2 separate regions of the Homo sapiens genome follow, and region 2 is linked to region 1. Evidence: fine-mapped expression QTL. Tissue or cell type: whole blood. Region 1 holds a variant in brackets; the other region holds the start of a gene. All regions are shown on one strand. Distances are from middle to middle.

Region 1 (8,268 bases):
TAAATGAAAAATGGACAAGGAAGGAAGGAGAAGGAAAGCTCCACGTGACTGAATCTGTCCTAGGCTGGCCTCTCACTCTCTGGGCTCTGACGGTTTACAGTGACTGATGAGGGCTCTCATGGGTTCTCTAGAGATACCCTATGTGGGTGATGTTTTACCTTCGGTAAAGACAAGCCTGGGGCATTCCCTTCCTTGTCCTCTCTCCTCTCCTCTAATCTCACAGAGATAGAAAACCAGAGTGTCGGGGGATGTGGCTGGCAAATCAAAGCTCAAGTTGGAGAAAATCAAAGTCAACCACTCCCCTCCCTCTCAGCACCTACAATGGTAGGGAAAAGGGTATAGCTGTAACCTTGAATGAAGTGGCAAGTTTTGGTGATGTCTCTGAATGAGACATTAATTACTGATTAGAAGACTTCTCATTCCCTGAAGGTGACCATAAAAGTCATGGTGATCCAGGAGCAAGAGACTAATTAGCTCCACAGCACAAAGGAGCTATAGGAGACAAAAATAAAATGACTTAATAATTACACCCTGAAGCCATACTTGTTCAACATCGTGATTATAAAAGAATAAAGGTATTGGGACCACTGCTTTTCTCATGGGTAGCAGGATGTTGAACAGGACTTTTTCTGTTGTCTGGGAATTGTGGCCAAAAACCCAAGGTTGAAAACAGTAATACTAACGGCCCCTAAAGATAATTGACTTGGATGGAAGCCAGACACTTCTCCAAGGCTATTTGACCCTGCTACAATCAATCCACCATTTGCCCCCAGATCATATTTGCAAAAAACTAGTTGGAATTGGGAGTTGTTGACTTAGATGAAAGGTGCTGGGGCCTTTTCTCTCTCTTCCCCACTAGCAGGTGAAGGGGCAATGTACTCTTCAGTTTCTATTGCTTTCTAACAATTGGCACCAACTTAGTGGCTTAAAACAACATGAATTCACCAGCTCACGGCTCGGTAGCTAAGAAGTCCAGGCACCATGTAGCTGGGTTCTCGTTCAGGGTGCCACAAGGCTGGAACCAAGCTGTTGGCTGGCTGGGTTCACACCTGATGTTCCAAGTCCTCTTCCAGCTTCTTGTGGTTATTGGCAGAACTCAGTTCCTTGTAGCTATAGGACTGAGGTTTCCACTTCCTTGCTGACTGTCAGTCAGGGGCTGCTCTTAGAGGGCACCCACATTCCTCACCACATGACCCCTCCATCTTCAAAGCCAGCAAAGCTCCCAAGTTAAATGATTCTCATGCTTCAAATCCCTTTCCAGGAAGAGCCCAGCCCCTTTTTAGCACTTTCCTGATTAGGTCAGACCCACCCTCCGTAATATCCCTTTCTTTCTTTCTTTCTTTCTTTCTTTCTTTCTTTCTTTCTTTCTTTCTTTCTTTCTTTCTTTCTTTTTTTTTTCTTTTTCTTTTTTTTTTTTTTTTGAGACGGAGTCTCACTGTTTCACCAGGCTGGAGTGCAGTGGGGTGATCTCGGCTCACTGCAATCTCCACCTCCCAAGTTCAAGCGATTCTCCTGCCTCAGTCTCCCGAATAGGTAGGACTACAGGTGCGTGCCACCATGCCCAGCTAATTTTTGTATTTTTAGTAGAGATGGTGTTTCACCTTGTTGGCCAGGATGGTCTTGATCTCTTGACATTGTGATCCACTCACCTCAGCCTTCTAAAGTTCTGGGATTACAGGCATGAGTCACCACCCCCGACCAATAATATCCCTTTATTAAAGTCGACAGTGCCATATGTCAGGGACCTATTGCAGGAGCTGAGTCCATCATAATTGTAATCTTGGGGATTGTGCAAGGTGTCCACATCAGGGGCAGGCATCTTGGGGCTGGATTACAATTCTGCCTGACATGGGTATGCCCTCCCAAAAGCCACATACAGGGGGGCTCCAAAGGATCATTTGTGAAGAATAGGGGTGAAGGCAAGACTCACTGGCAGGCAGTCTTCAGGTGGACAGCCTCTGTTACAGCAGACCTGCTCCTCTGCTCTTCATGAAGAACAGAGGGCAGCAGTAACAAGGTCTACACCCCACCCCATGGCATGGCCAGGAGGTGAGAGCTGCCCTGGACATTGTAGAATGGGGAAAGCTCTGACCAGGCTTCCCAGGACAATACCTAAGCCACACTTGCTGTGAGCATGCCAGGGGGCATGGGGGCTGAGTGGTGCAGCCAGAAACATCAAGCCAGATGAGCTCCCCACATCAGCAAACTATACATGGGGAGGCAAGCACATCACCCTCCAAAGCACCCACCTGTGACCCACCTGGAGAGTCAGGTTTCTGATGCCTCCATCTACAGACATCAACAGCCAGGAAAGGCCGGGAGCAGTGGCTGAAGCCTGTAATCCCAGCACTTTGAGAGGCCTAGGTGAGCGGAACACTTGAGGTCAGGAGTTCAAGACCAGCCTGGTCAACATGGCGAATCCCCGTCTCTACTAAAAATACAATAATTAGCCGGGCATGGTGGCAGGTGTCTGTAGTCCCAGCTACTTGGGAGGCTAAGGCAGGAGAATTGCTTGAACCCGGGAGGTGGAGGTTGCAGTGAACCGAGATTGCCCCACTGCACTACAGCCTGGGCGACAAAGTGAGACTCCATCTAAAAAAAAAAAACAGCCGAGAGAGCTCCAACAACAGCAGCTAAATAAAAGCATTTGTCCCTTTTCTCTAATCACTTTGTTTCATGTCAACTACACAGCGGCTATAAGCAGAAGGTGAAAGAAATAAAAAAGCCAACCACTCCTCTCTCCTCTAGACAAGACTCTCCGTGCCTGGCAGCTCTTGGAGAAGGACATGAGCACTAATCTGACCAGAAATTTAAGTTTTGATCTGGACCCGACTGCATTTTATTTTATTTTTTTGAGACAGGCTCCCTCTGTCACCCAGGCTGGAGTGCAGTGGTGCAATCATAGCTCACTGCAGCCTCAAACTCCTGGGCTCAAGCAATCCTCCTACCTCAGCCTCTTGAGTGGCTGGGACTACAGGCATGAGCCACCGCGCCTGGTCCCCAACCGCATTATAACCGAGAAGCTGTGGGACCTATCATTAAGAGAAATGAAATGCAGATTCAACAGAACATATTGTAAGGTTGCATTTGGAGGAAAAATAAATACTTCTTGTGTGTTTCTCACTAAATTCATACCGTTTAATAAACCAATTACATTTACAAACATGCTGAACTCTCAACAGAGTGGTCTGAACTCTTGGGAGTAGACATAGTTCCAACTACCACAGAGAGTGGAAAAAAATTCAGAGTGGCCTTTCAACCAGAGCCCAGACACTGGAGTCTCAAAAATGTGTGCAAATGTACCGGGCACAGTGGCTCATGCCTATAATCCCAGCATTTTGGGAGGCCGAGGTAGGCGGATCACTTGAGGTCAGGAGTTCAAGACCAGCCTGGCCAACATGGTGAAACCCTGTCTCTACTAAAAATACAAAAATTAGTTGGGCGTGGTGGCTCGAGCCTATAATCCCAGCTACTAGGGAGGCTCAGACAGGAGAATCACTTGAACCTGAGAGGTGGAGGTTGCAGTGAGCCGAGATCCTGCCACTGCACTCCAGCCTGGGCAACAGAGCAAGACTCCATCTCAAAAAAAAAAATTGTGCAAAAGTGTGTGTGCACATCCATGAGTGTGTGTGAGACAGGGTGTGTTTGCATGTGAGCATGTGTGTGCAGAGTGAATATCAGGGTATCCACATGAGTGTGTGTGTGTATGAGGAACACATGAGATTGAACGTGTGTAATTGTATATCTCCAGTGACAGCACAGAGGAAGAGATGGTCCAAGACCAAAGAGGAAAGAAATGGCATAAGATGGGACAGTGTTCTATGATCTCTAACTGGCCAAAGAAAAATGAGAAACAAATTTAAAAGAAGACAGGTAAGTAAAGTAAGTTTAGCTGTAATTTGGATTCTCATTTAGGAACCAGGGTCTTAATCTAGAGGGAGAAGGAACTCAACATAATGTACTGTAATGGGGGTTTCCAGACTTGCTAACTTTATTCTCTCCCAAGCCATTTGTCTCTCTGTTAGTTTAATAATTTTCCACAGCTGCTGTGTAATATAACTACTGATGTACTACTGAGCCAATTTCTCCCAGCCAGTCCTACTGCCAGAGAAACTAATGGGAAGAGATAGCGCCAGGGTCTACCCTGCAAACCTGCAAGGGCTTGCAAATTGGGTCACAGTTTGCTCGTTGCTGAAGGGAACAGCACACACAGGCTGCCATCTCCATTTAATTTTTTTCTTTGTCTTGCAAACAGCAATATCTTTCTTTTGGAATTCTGAAGAAATCGATTGCTTTCATATTTCCCTGGCTCTTTAAGGAACAAAAAGCAAGTCCTGAAAAGTAAAGACATTCCTTTTAGGTCCAACTCACAGAAATTGTGGTGCAACAGCAGTGTTCGATTCCAGAAAGAGCAGGGATTCTATTTCTGTCAGTCTTATGTCTCCCTGAAACCATTTTACGATTATTTTGTGTCCTCTGTTTTCCCAGTTGGATGACTTAAACACCACCCCTGAGAGGCAGCTGTTTCCAGAATATTGCACAATTTATTGAGTTCATGAGAATCGTGATCGTTGGCAGCACCGAACTTCACGGAGGGAATCATAGGCACTTTAATTCCAATTTGTTGACTTATGGAGGAAG[A/C]AATTTCTCCCAGTGGTGTCCCTTCATCCAGGAACAAGAGCCATCAAAGTGTCACAGACTTAGAGCCGGAAGGGCTCTCCGCTAGTGTTTCTGCCAGTCCTCTTGGTTTTACACATGAGGAAACTGAGGCCCAGAGAAGTTACCCAGTAGCAGATCTGCAAGTCACCCAGTAGCAGATCTGCAAGGAGCTCTTAGCAATCCTGACTCCAAGTGTAATGCTCTTGCATTAGCTCTGTGCTGCCTCCTAGATGTTGGTCTTCTTAATGTTGATAGCACATTTGCTCAAATGTTTGCTAATATGGTTTGGCTGTGTCCTCACCCAAATCTCATCTTGAATTGTAGTTCCCATAATCCCCACTTGTCGTGGCAGGGACCCAGTGGGAGGTAATTTAATCATGGGTGTGGTTACCCTCATGCTGTTCTCATGATAGGGAGTGAAGTCTCACGAGATCTGATGGTTTTATAAACAAGAGTTCTCCTGCACAAGCTCTGTTGCCTGCTGCCATGTAAGAAGTCCCTTTGCTCTTCCTTCATCTTCCGCCATGATTGTGAGGCCTCCCCAGCCATAAGGAACCATGAGTTCATTAAACCTCTTTTTTTATAAATTACACAGTCTCCAGTATGTCTTTATTAGTAGCGTGAGAACAGACTAATACATTTGCCCTGCAAAACTTCCTTATTCTTAAGCAAAGTGATTTCCAAATTTTCTTCATTAGACACATAATTTAGAACTACGATTAACTAAACACTAACTGGGTGTCAATTACTGTACTATTTCCTGCACATGGACACATTTAGGGTCAAAGTACTGTACCAAGTATAATTTTCCTAGAAGCTATAAAATGTAGGGTATCAGTGAATGGAAAAAATAGAACATTAATTAATAAAAGAAATCTACTACAGAGAATCTTTTCCCCCTAAATATAACCATAGAGACTAGGCTGGTCATTATTTGCAGTTCACAAAAGAAAGAGGCTACAGAAATATTCACAGCTATTGAACGAGGTGGCTGGCAAGTGAATTTGGTGTAGGTGCATAAATTTGTGTGCTGGGGGTGTGTTATAAAAGAATAAAGTCTGGGTTCAGCTGGGTGATGGCAGGAAAAACAGGATCCCAGAAGGAGGCTGAAAGAGTTGGGAACAGATGGAATGACTGGCCTACATGTCAAGTCTCTTCAGCTGCCCACCTGGCCACAGAAAAGGCAAAGCTCTGCAAATGGATCATCTCGTTCTTACTGTAACACATAACAAGCAGTGGGCAACACAAACTCACCTGTGTCAATGGAAAGAGTTAAACTCTGTGACATATTTCAGAAGCTTTATTCTGAGTCAGATATGAGTGACCAAGGCCCGTGACACAGCCCCAAGAGGTCCTGAGAACATGTGCCCAAGGTGGTTGGGTTACAGCTTAATTTTATATCTTTTAGAGAGACAGAAGTTGTAGGCAGACATCAATTAATACATGTAAGGTGTACATTGGTTGGGTCTGGAAGCAGTTGTGGGGGACAGGCTGGGAGAGTGGGTATGGCTTCCAGGTCATAGTGGATTCAAAAATGTTCTGATTGCCAATCAGTTGAAAGCGTTAAGTTATTATCCAAAGACCTGGAATCAACAGAAAGGAAAGTCTTCTAGGTTAAGATAAGGGGTTGTGAAGACCAGGGATTTCATTATGCAAATGAAGCCTCTAGGCTGTAGAGAGAATAGAGAACAAATGTCTTTTATCAGACCTAAAAACTTGCCGAACCCTTAGTTAAATATCTCCCAGATGAGGTAAAGACCTAGAAAGGGAAGAGGATTCTCTACAGAATGTAGATTTCCTCACAAAAGACAGTTTTTCAGGGCCATTTAAAAAGATGTCAAAGAAATCTATTTTGGAGTAAAATACTTCAGTGTCTTTCAGGGCCTGCCATCTGTCCTATGATGCTATACTAGAGTCAGGTTGGAATTTGGTGTCTTCCCACTACAAAGAGTCTGCTTTGTCAGTCCTAAGATCTCTGTTTTAATGTTAACCCTGGTCAGTTGAGCCTGAATTCCAAAGGGAGGAGGGCATAAGGAGGTCTATCCAACAAGCCCCTCTTCCCATCACAGCTTGAACTAGTTTTTCAGGTTTACTTTGGAATGCCTCGGCCAAGAGGGAGATCCATTTAGTCATTCTGGAGGCTTAGAATTTTATTTTTGGTTTACACCTGTTATTTACCTTTTTTCTGCTACACTGGCAAAATAACCCCGTCTGCCCCTGAAAAAGGCTTCCTGGTAATCTCTCTCAGGAATCAGGGTGATTTCTCTAGTTGTTGGCGAGTTTGACAGATTGCAGGGGAAATGCTGCTTCATAATCCTGCTCCAGATGTGTTCTGACCCTAGAAGTGAACACCGAGAGCGTTCCGGTCCAACCCTACAGGAGACCAGGGAAGGAGCACCACCCAGAGAGAGAGTTCCGTACCTAAGTGCACCTTCATTTGGTATTTAAAAAAAAAAAAAAAAAAAAAAAAACAGCAAAGATGAAGGAATGTTGACAGGGCCACATGACATCAAACTAATCAGCAAGATCCCCCTCCAAGAAGTGTCTGAGTTCAAGGAATGAAAGTATTCTAATCAAACACAGAGCTTGAGAGGAGTATAAAAGACTTGGCAGAGAATCACTGAAGTAGGAAATTAATAAGGTTCAAACCTAGTGTTAAACAAGCCTTCTGAATTCCAAAATCCAACAAAGCATCTTTGGTTGTGTTCTGAAGTTAAAGAAACTATAGTCAAGGGTAACAAGAGGTAAGGGTCCCAGCTACAGGGGGCGGGGTGGGCCTTGGTTTGCTCAGTCCCCATTAAGCCAATGTTGGGGCAGGCAAAGACGGGATGAGATGAGAGAGGCTCCACCGTGCAAGCGTGAGGGCAGATCCTGCCTTTCTTTATGACGTTAATATTTTGTTCATCATGGATTTTTTCCCATTGACTTTTACATTTAAAAACATTTCACAGCTGGGTGCAGTGGCTCATGACTGTCATTCCAACACTTTGTGAAGCCAAGGTGGGTGAACTGATTGAGGCCTGGGCAATACAGAGAGACCCCATCTATACAAAAAACATATATAAATTAGCCAGGCATATGTATGCCTGTAGTCCCAGCTAATCTGGACTCTGAGGCTCTGGAGGATCCCTTGAGTCTGGGAGATGGAGGCTGCAGTGAGCCATGATTGTACCACTCCATTCCAGCCTGAGCAACAAAGTGAGGCTCTGCTTCAAAAATAAAAAAAAAAATTAAAAACACTAAAAAACTGACCAAAAAAAGACACAATATATATATATTTAAAAACCCACTTCATTTAAAATATAATTTATCTTGACTGCTGAGCTACTTTATGTCCCCTTAAATTTATTGTTCCCCATGAGTTCTCATTTGTTTCACTCTAGTCTCAGCCCCAGGAAAGAGGTTAATAGATGCAAGTGACAGATGTGAAAGATGGCGACAGAAAAGTCACCATCTCTTAAGGGTCCCCCAAGAAGATGTGGAGGTTTTAACCCCCAGTACCTTGGAATGTGACCTTATTTGGAAATAAGGTTATTGCAGATGTAATTAGTTAAGATGAAATCACACATGAGTAGGACACGCCCCTCATCCCACATGATTAGTGTCCTT
Region 2 (6,126 bases), 42 kb before region 1:
GCGTCACATTGCATGAATAATGGAAGTGTTAGACCCTAAAGATGCCCCAAGATTTTTTGAATACCACAGAATATCTCCATGGACCAGCCACTAGAATGAAAGTTCCATCTTTGTCCAGTTCTATGGTAGCAACAGAACATAGCAAGTTAAGGCATAATGGCCTCTGCTCTCTATAATAGGTATGGGCTCACGTTTATTTTCTATGTCAGGCCTTCTAGTGGGTATAATAAAGGTAGACACAATCTTTATTTCTATATGCTGACTAGACGCAAGGGAGAAGTAGTGACCCAGAAAAGACGAGTGGTGGGGGTGGAGTAGATGGTGAATAAGGTTTACAGTGATTCCTACTTAGTAAAGTTCAGTCACATTCTCAGGAGTGCATCTGTCTACAGCTGAGCTGAAACTAGAAGGCGAACAGTGAATAGAACAAGGATCAGAGGCTGTGCCACTGACACAGCAAACACTCCCATTTGTCCCTACAGTGTTCCACAAAAAACAAACCTGAAAAACTGTATCCAAGTCTCTGGTGGGGGCCAGGGGTCCAAAAATCTGCATATTTAACCAGTATCCCAGGCAATTGGGGGCACACTAAAATATCTGTGTTCCTGCATGTCACCTGCTCAACAACTCAGAAGGTTACAAAAAGTAATCCAAGACTCAGGGAGGTTCTGTCAAACAGTGCCTGGGAGAACCAAACTTGAGCCCTTCTGATGCCAGAAATAGACTGTGTTCTTCACTGCACATTGCCACAACCTGGTGGCAAGTCTTTACAATTCTCTGAGCCTTGGCCTCCTCTTGTGTAAAGTGAGAGGTTAGGATTTCTTTTGTGTTTGGCATTTGATGATGACCCGAGGTGAAAGAGTTGTCTGCATCCAAGACAGCTGGATACCAAGGTGCCATTTTGGATCAGAGAAACTTGCACAAACTCTGGGCCAAATGGTTTTACAGTGGTCTCTGACTCTCTCAGACTAATTTAAGATGTATCCCAGAACGATTAGCCTATGGCCCATTTATATCAAGATCCAGCTGAGTTCTAATTGGCACGAGCAACCGCTGGCATGGTACACACAAGTGCTTGCAAAGGTGATTGCCAACAGCCACCCAGCTGCAGCGGAGAGGATGTGGGCACAAACCCTTCAGATTAGGGTGTGTCACTTGAGACCAGGCCAGAGCCATCAAAGCACCCTGTTTTCCTCCACCCTTTCCGACTGCCCCAAGACTGGCACAGGGTTTAGTAATAGCGAAAGTAACACTTGCCCATGTAGGGACCAACAGTCTTTTCTAGGTTGAGTTTTCTAACTTGAGTGAGGTGCCAGACAGAAAGATGCCACCAGAGAGATTTGGCTCCCCAATGTGCCATGCAGTAAAGCCTGGCCCTTATGGCCTGCCGGACAGCATTACAACAAGTGACAAGCGCACATTTACTGTCATGGCCTGACTGAAAATCCTTGTCGTCTTAATTTGTCATTCCGAAATATATGAAAACACCTACTTAGGCCACAAAGCCTTCTTTTTTGCCTAATGGTGTTCTAGAAATAAACTGGCAGTGAAGGATACTGCATTGTTACGGGGATGTTGTCAGTTGGTTTCGTTTATCCATTTATCAATGCCATTTTGCAAGAAATAGTCTCTGCTTTAGAGATGACACTTCATACATAACAGGGAGGGCGTGAGTTTTCCTTAACTGCCAGAACATTACATAATATAACATGTCACCAGGCCTCAAATGCAGCAGCAAAGACTCTGTATATAGGCGACTCCAGAGCCAACATGTGCTTAGCCAAAAAAAATGATTCAATGCCTTCAGAATGTGGGATGCAAAATGAGATTCTGTAGGAGTCAGGGGTCAATGGTGGGAGAGTGCAAGAAACAGATCTGACAGCTCCCAAGTTCGGGGCAATCTGTTCTCAGTTAACTAATAGTTGAGAGGGATCGCTGAAGGATACAACATTGATACCCCAAAGCGCTCCAATCAGTTTCACTATTTGGCCTGATTTTATGTGTCTGTTTTCCATTCCTCCCTAACTCCTTCTTGGGCTGCAGAATGGGCCTCATTTGCAGGTTTGGTTACCAGTTATCAACTTCCACTGTGATAAAGGACAATTAGGATACAACATTGATACCCCAAAGCACTCCAATCAGTTTCACTATTTGGCCTGATTTTATGTGTCTGTTTCCTATCCCTCCCTAACTCCTTCTTGGGCTGCAGAATGGGCCTCACTTGCAGGTTTGGTTATCAGTTATCAACTTCCACTGGGATAAACGACAATTAGGAGGTGGTGGGGACAGGAGTCCTGCCTGTGAAGTCCCAGTTAATCACCAAGCCATACAACCTCCCCTAAAGAGTCAAGAGCGGATGCAGGCTGTTGATGTTTTTCATTCAAAGCTCGCAATGCACCGTTCTGAAAACTCTCCAGCGTAGAATTCAGGAACCCTGAGTTTTCTATCTCTGTCTAGTTCTGGACTGAATGGGCTCAAGTCATCTAGTTAACCTCTCTGGATTTCAGTCTTCTGAAAAGTGAAGCTAAGAGATCTAGCATTCTGCAGAAAAGTACTGGAGATGACTCAGGACTGAAAATGATCATGAAGCCCCTTTGCAAATATCAAAGTGGTGATGAAGCAGTCATGAACTTTGACCAGAAGCCGTGTTTTGTGGGATTGCCACTTTAATCGCTCCTGTTCATCATTAGGACTGCAGCCAGAGTGTGGAAGGAGGTGAGTGCTTTGGTGGTCTTGCTAGGTTGCGGAGCGTGGGCTTTTGTGGATATGCAACAGTGCCCTCTATTGGCATCCGGCATATTTTAAGCCACTGGAGCTGATAAGTCCATTTTCCTCTGCCCTGTGTCTTTGTACTTCTTAGTGGAGGCCCAGAGAGCTTGTGTGTAAGGGGCTGTGACCAGACTGCTCAGCAAGGGCTTTTGCTTCGCAGAGTGCTGCGCGTACATTAGAAAGCTGCTGAGTGGAAATCTTATTCCCTGGGATTTTAAACAGCCACATTTCCTGGCGTTTGACATCAATGGGACATTTAGCAAATGGAGTGCCAGATGGAGCTCCTGGCTCTATTTTCTGTAAGACACTTGAGAGTCAGAACCCTCCCAATGTTTGCGCTTGATAGGCTTGCCCACCGTAGGGCTGGCCACGGCTCAGTGGATGCGGGGCATTCTGCGGGCTTGCAACGCGGGGAGAGCGGGGACACACAGGATAGCACGTGGCAGCTCGGCCTGCATTGCTACACACAAAAGCATTTCAAGTTCCAGCATCCTTGGTAATTCACTTTAACACTCAGTCACTCACTTCTCTTATGTTATCTGACTTCCTTACAAGCCACATGCAAGAAAACAAATAGTAATTGACTCACACTTTCACAAGCACTGTCTCTCCTGAACTTCTCAAGGCAGTAAGCAAGGCAAACCTCGGTGCCACTGTTTTGGAGATCAAGAAATGGAAGCTTAGATTGTTGAGGGACTTGCCCACAGTTCCATGGTATCACCTTATAACTTATAGAAAAAGCAATGAAATCTCAGATTTTTTCTAATATCTAAGCAGTGCTGTCTTCCCCACCCCCCACCCCCTTTTGTTTTTTGAGACGGAGTCTCACTCTGTCTCCCAGGATGGAGTATAATGGCATGGTCTCGGCTTGCTGCAACCTCCACCTCCCAGGTTCAAGGGGTTCTCCCACCTCAGCCTCCCTAGTAGCTGGGACTACAGACACAGGCCACCACACCCAGCTAATTTTTGTATTTTTAGTAGAGACATGGTTTCACTATGTTGGCCAGGCTGGTCTCAAACTCCTGACCTCGTGATCCACCCGCCTCAGCTTCCCAAAGTGCTGGGGTTACAGGCGTGAGCCACCACTCCCGGCCTCTCTTCCCCCTTTCTATGTGAACACATGTACTTTTATTAAATCATTTTGATTATTTTCTATTAATAATTCACATTTATATGAATCACAGAATTCAAGATTACTATATAGTCCCTAGAAATTGCTTTATTACTCACTATATTTATGAAGGCTCCTAGTAAATCTCCATGATGATATTTGGAGAGTCTCTGATATATTCAAAGTTGTCCTGTTTTTATACTGAAGGCAGCCGACACTGATCCAGTCAATGAAATCGTGATTCTCTAAGAATGAATATTTGGATTTTTTTTTTCTTTTCATAAGGTTGCGTGTCTTTGGTGTTCAGGCAGGTAGATGCCACATTGCTTTATTAAATTGGTGTAATGGAGCATGGATTTTTTTATATTGTCATATGCAGTGATAATCTAAAATTCTAGAGCTATGATTCATCTCTGAGGATGTTTTACTCATATTGCACAATAACCAAAAAGTATTTAGACCTCAAACAGCGGGTTAACTGGGCATGGCCCTGTCCTTGTACAGTTTGCATGCTGTTATTTTTACAGATGTTCTCCTCAGTTCCCACCTTAATTCAGGTCAGGGGAGTTAATGGGAAATGAAACTGCATCTCCTCTACTTCCCTCCTTCCTGCACGGTTGACTTGAATTATAAACCAACAGCTATGCTCTGCCGGTTGATAACTGAGTTGTTTACCACCTCAACCAGAAGATGCAACGATTAGCTGTTTTTTTCTGGCTTTAGAAAAAGGTTACCTCGTAAATAGATGAGGAGACAATCTGCATATCTGCCCCATCTTACCTTTGACTTAGATACCTACTTCCCTACTGAAACAATAAACCAGTCTCTGGCTGTTGCTGCAGAAGAATCTGCTACAGAAATATCTGTCACACTTTAAAATTGTTTCCCACACACCAAACAAGCTCAACCGCTCTTCTCTTGTTCCAAAACAAAAGCCTTATCCTGTAGGACTCTTTCAACAAAAACCAATGAAGAACACCTTTACTTTTTCAAGTAAAACTAAAAATAATGATCACAAAACAAAAACTTGCTCTTTATATTTATTCAACTTCCTCTAGCCGCCCCCTACATTAAACCAAGTGTTTGAGAAGAGTTTCAAGAAATCTTAACTTCAGAAGGAGTTTTAGGAAGTTCCTATTGCAATCTCTGATTAACGTGGAAATCCATTCTCTTGATAAATACTTCCACTAACAAAGAGGCCTCTCTTTAAAAGATTGTCCATTCCTTTTCTGGAGAGTTCTAAAAGAGGATAATCAAAAGGAAAGACCCTTCTTTCACTGGAATTTATGTCTTAGTAAGTGTTCATTTCAGATATATTCACAAGTAAAAAGAGAGTAAACTCTAAGACTCAAAAATGGGCCATTTCTATGAAATAAGGACACAACAGATCGAAGCTGAAAGATTTGATCAACCTTATCAATTGTTGAAAGACAAGTCTTATAGAAGGAAGCTCGGCCAACTCCAAAACTGACTCCTTTCCAATGCTTAGTGATCATCTGGACACACTTGTGGAATGTGACATTTTGGTCTAACACAAGCACAGAATAACATGTAGCATATACCCAAATGAAATGAATCACTAGCGAACGGATCCTTAAAGTCTACAAAAACCAACCACAGGGCTGTAATGAAAGAAAGTGATGACAGACAAGTTATAACATACAGCCAGCCAAATTCCGAACACAGTATTTTGGCTGACTAGTCTTGGACATGGGAAGAATTATGCTGTTCAATTTACAACTTATTAAAGAGGGAAAGAAGTCATCGATACAGATGGTTGGTTCTATATCAAAGAAGACTAGGAGAGGTGATATTACAGAGCTTCTATAGAGCAAACTGTCAAGCAGTACTTAACTCACTTTTCCCCATAACTAATCATTAGAAAAGAATGAATTTTCAAAAGGTTAAAAAAAAATTGCAGTGTTCTTAGTAAGCCATGGTTTTGCTCACTTATCTGCAAAAGCCTGGACATGCTGATAGAGTCAGCTTCATTCCTTAGGCAAGGCAATAATTACTTTTTCACATGGTGCATGTTCTCTGCAAGCAGTTGCTCACGACATGTGGAATGAAATGCCTTTGTTAGGGGGTGGGGAGAGTTTATCATAATGTTTTATGCTAGTAGATGAAATCTGCCCCTAAATATAACATAAAAACTACTTTTGATTTACCAGAAGGAACACATGGTACCTTAAGTACAGTCTATGAATATTTTGAACAGTAAGCCTCAAATAGGTAACAGAAGTGTC

The links. PIP is the estimated chance that this variant, and not a neighbour inherited with it, causes the effect.
Region 2: it holds the start of IATPR, and the variant in region 1 is fine-mapped to the expression of IATPR in whole blood (INTERVAL, PIP above 0.99). The same link has a PIP of 0.9 or more in Th17 cells.

The regions. Positions count from the first base shown.
Region 1 is chr10:33,070,467-33,078,734 of GRCh38, reverse strand. The region is part of intron 2 of ITGB1-DT (ITGB1 divergent transcript); the gene reads right to left. It overlaps IATPR (ITGB1 adjacent tumor promoting lncRNA), which reads left to right. Exons shown (of 3, transcript NR_160030.1): 2 at 3,752-3,873; 3 at 4,489-4,709. Among named protein-coding and RNA genes, the nearest start is that of IATPR, 42 kb to the left of the region's middle. RefSeq lists an enhancer at 2,305-2,806. The variant A/C (reference allele first, on the strand shown) is at 4,642.
Region 2 is chr10:33,113,060-33,119,185 of GRCh38, reverse strand. IATPR (ITGB1 adjacent tumor promoting lncRNA) reads left to right here and starts at 2,379. Exons shown (of 3, transcript NR_160030.1): 1 at 2,379-2,715.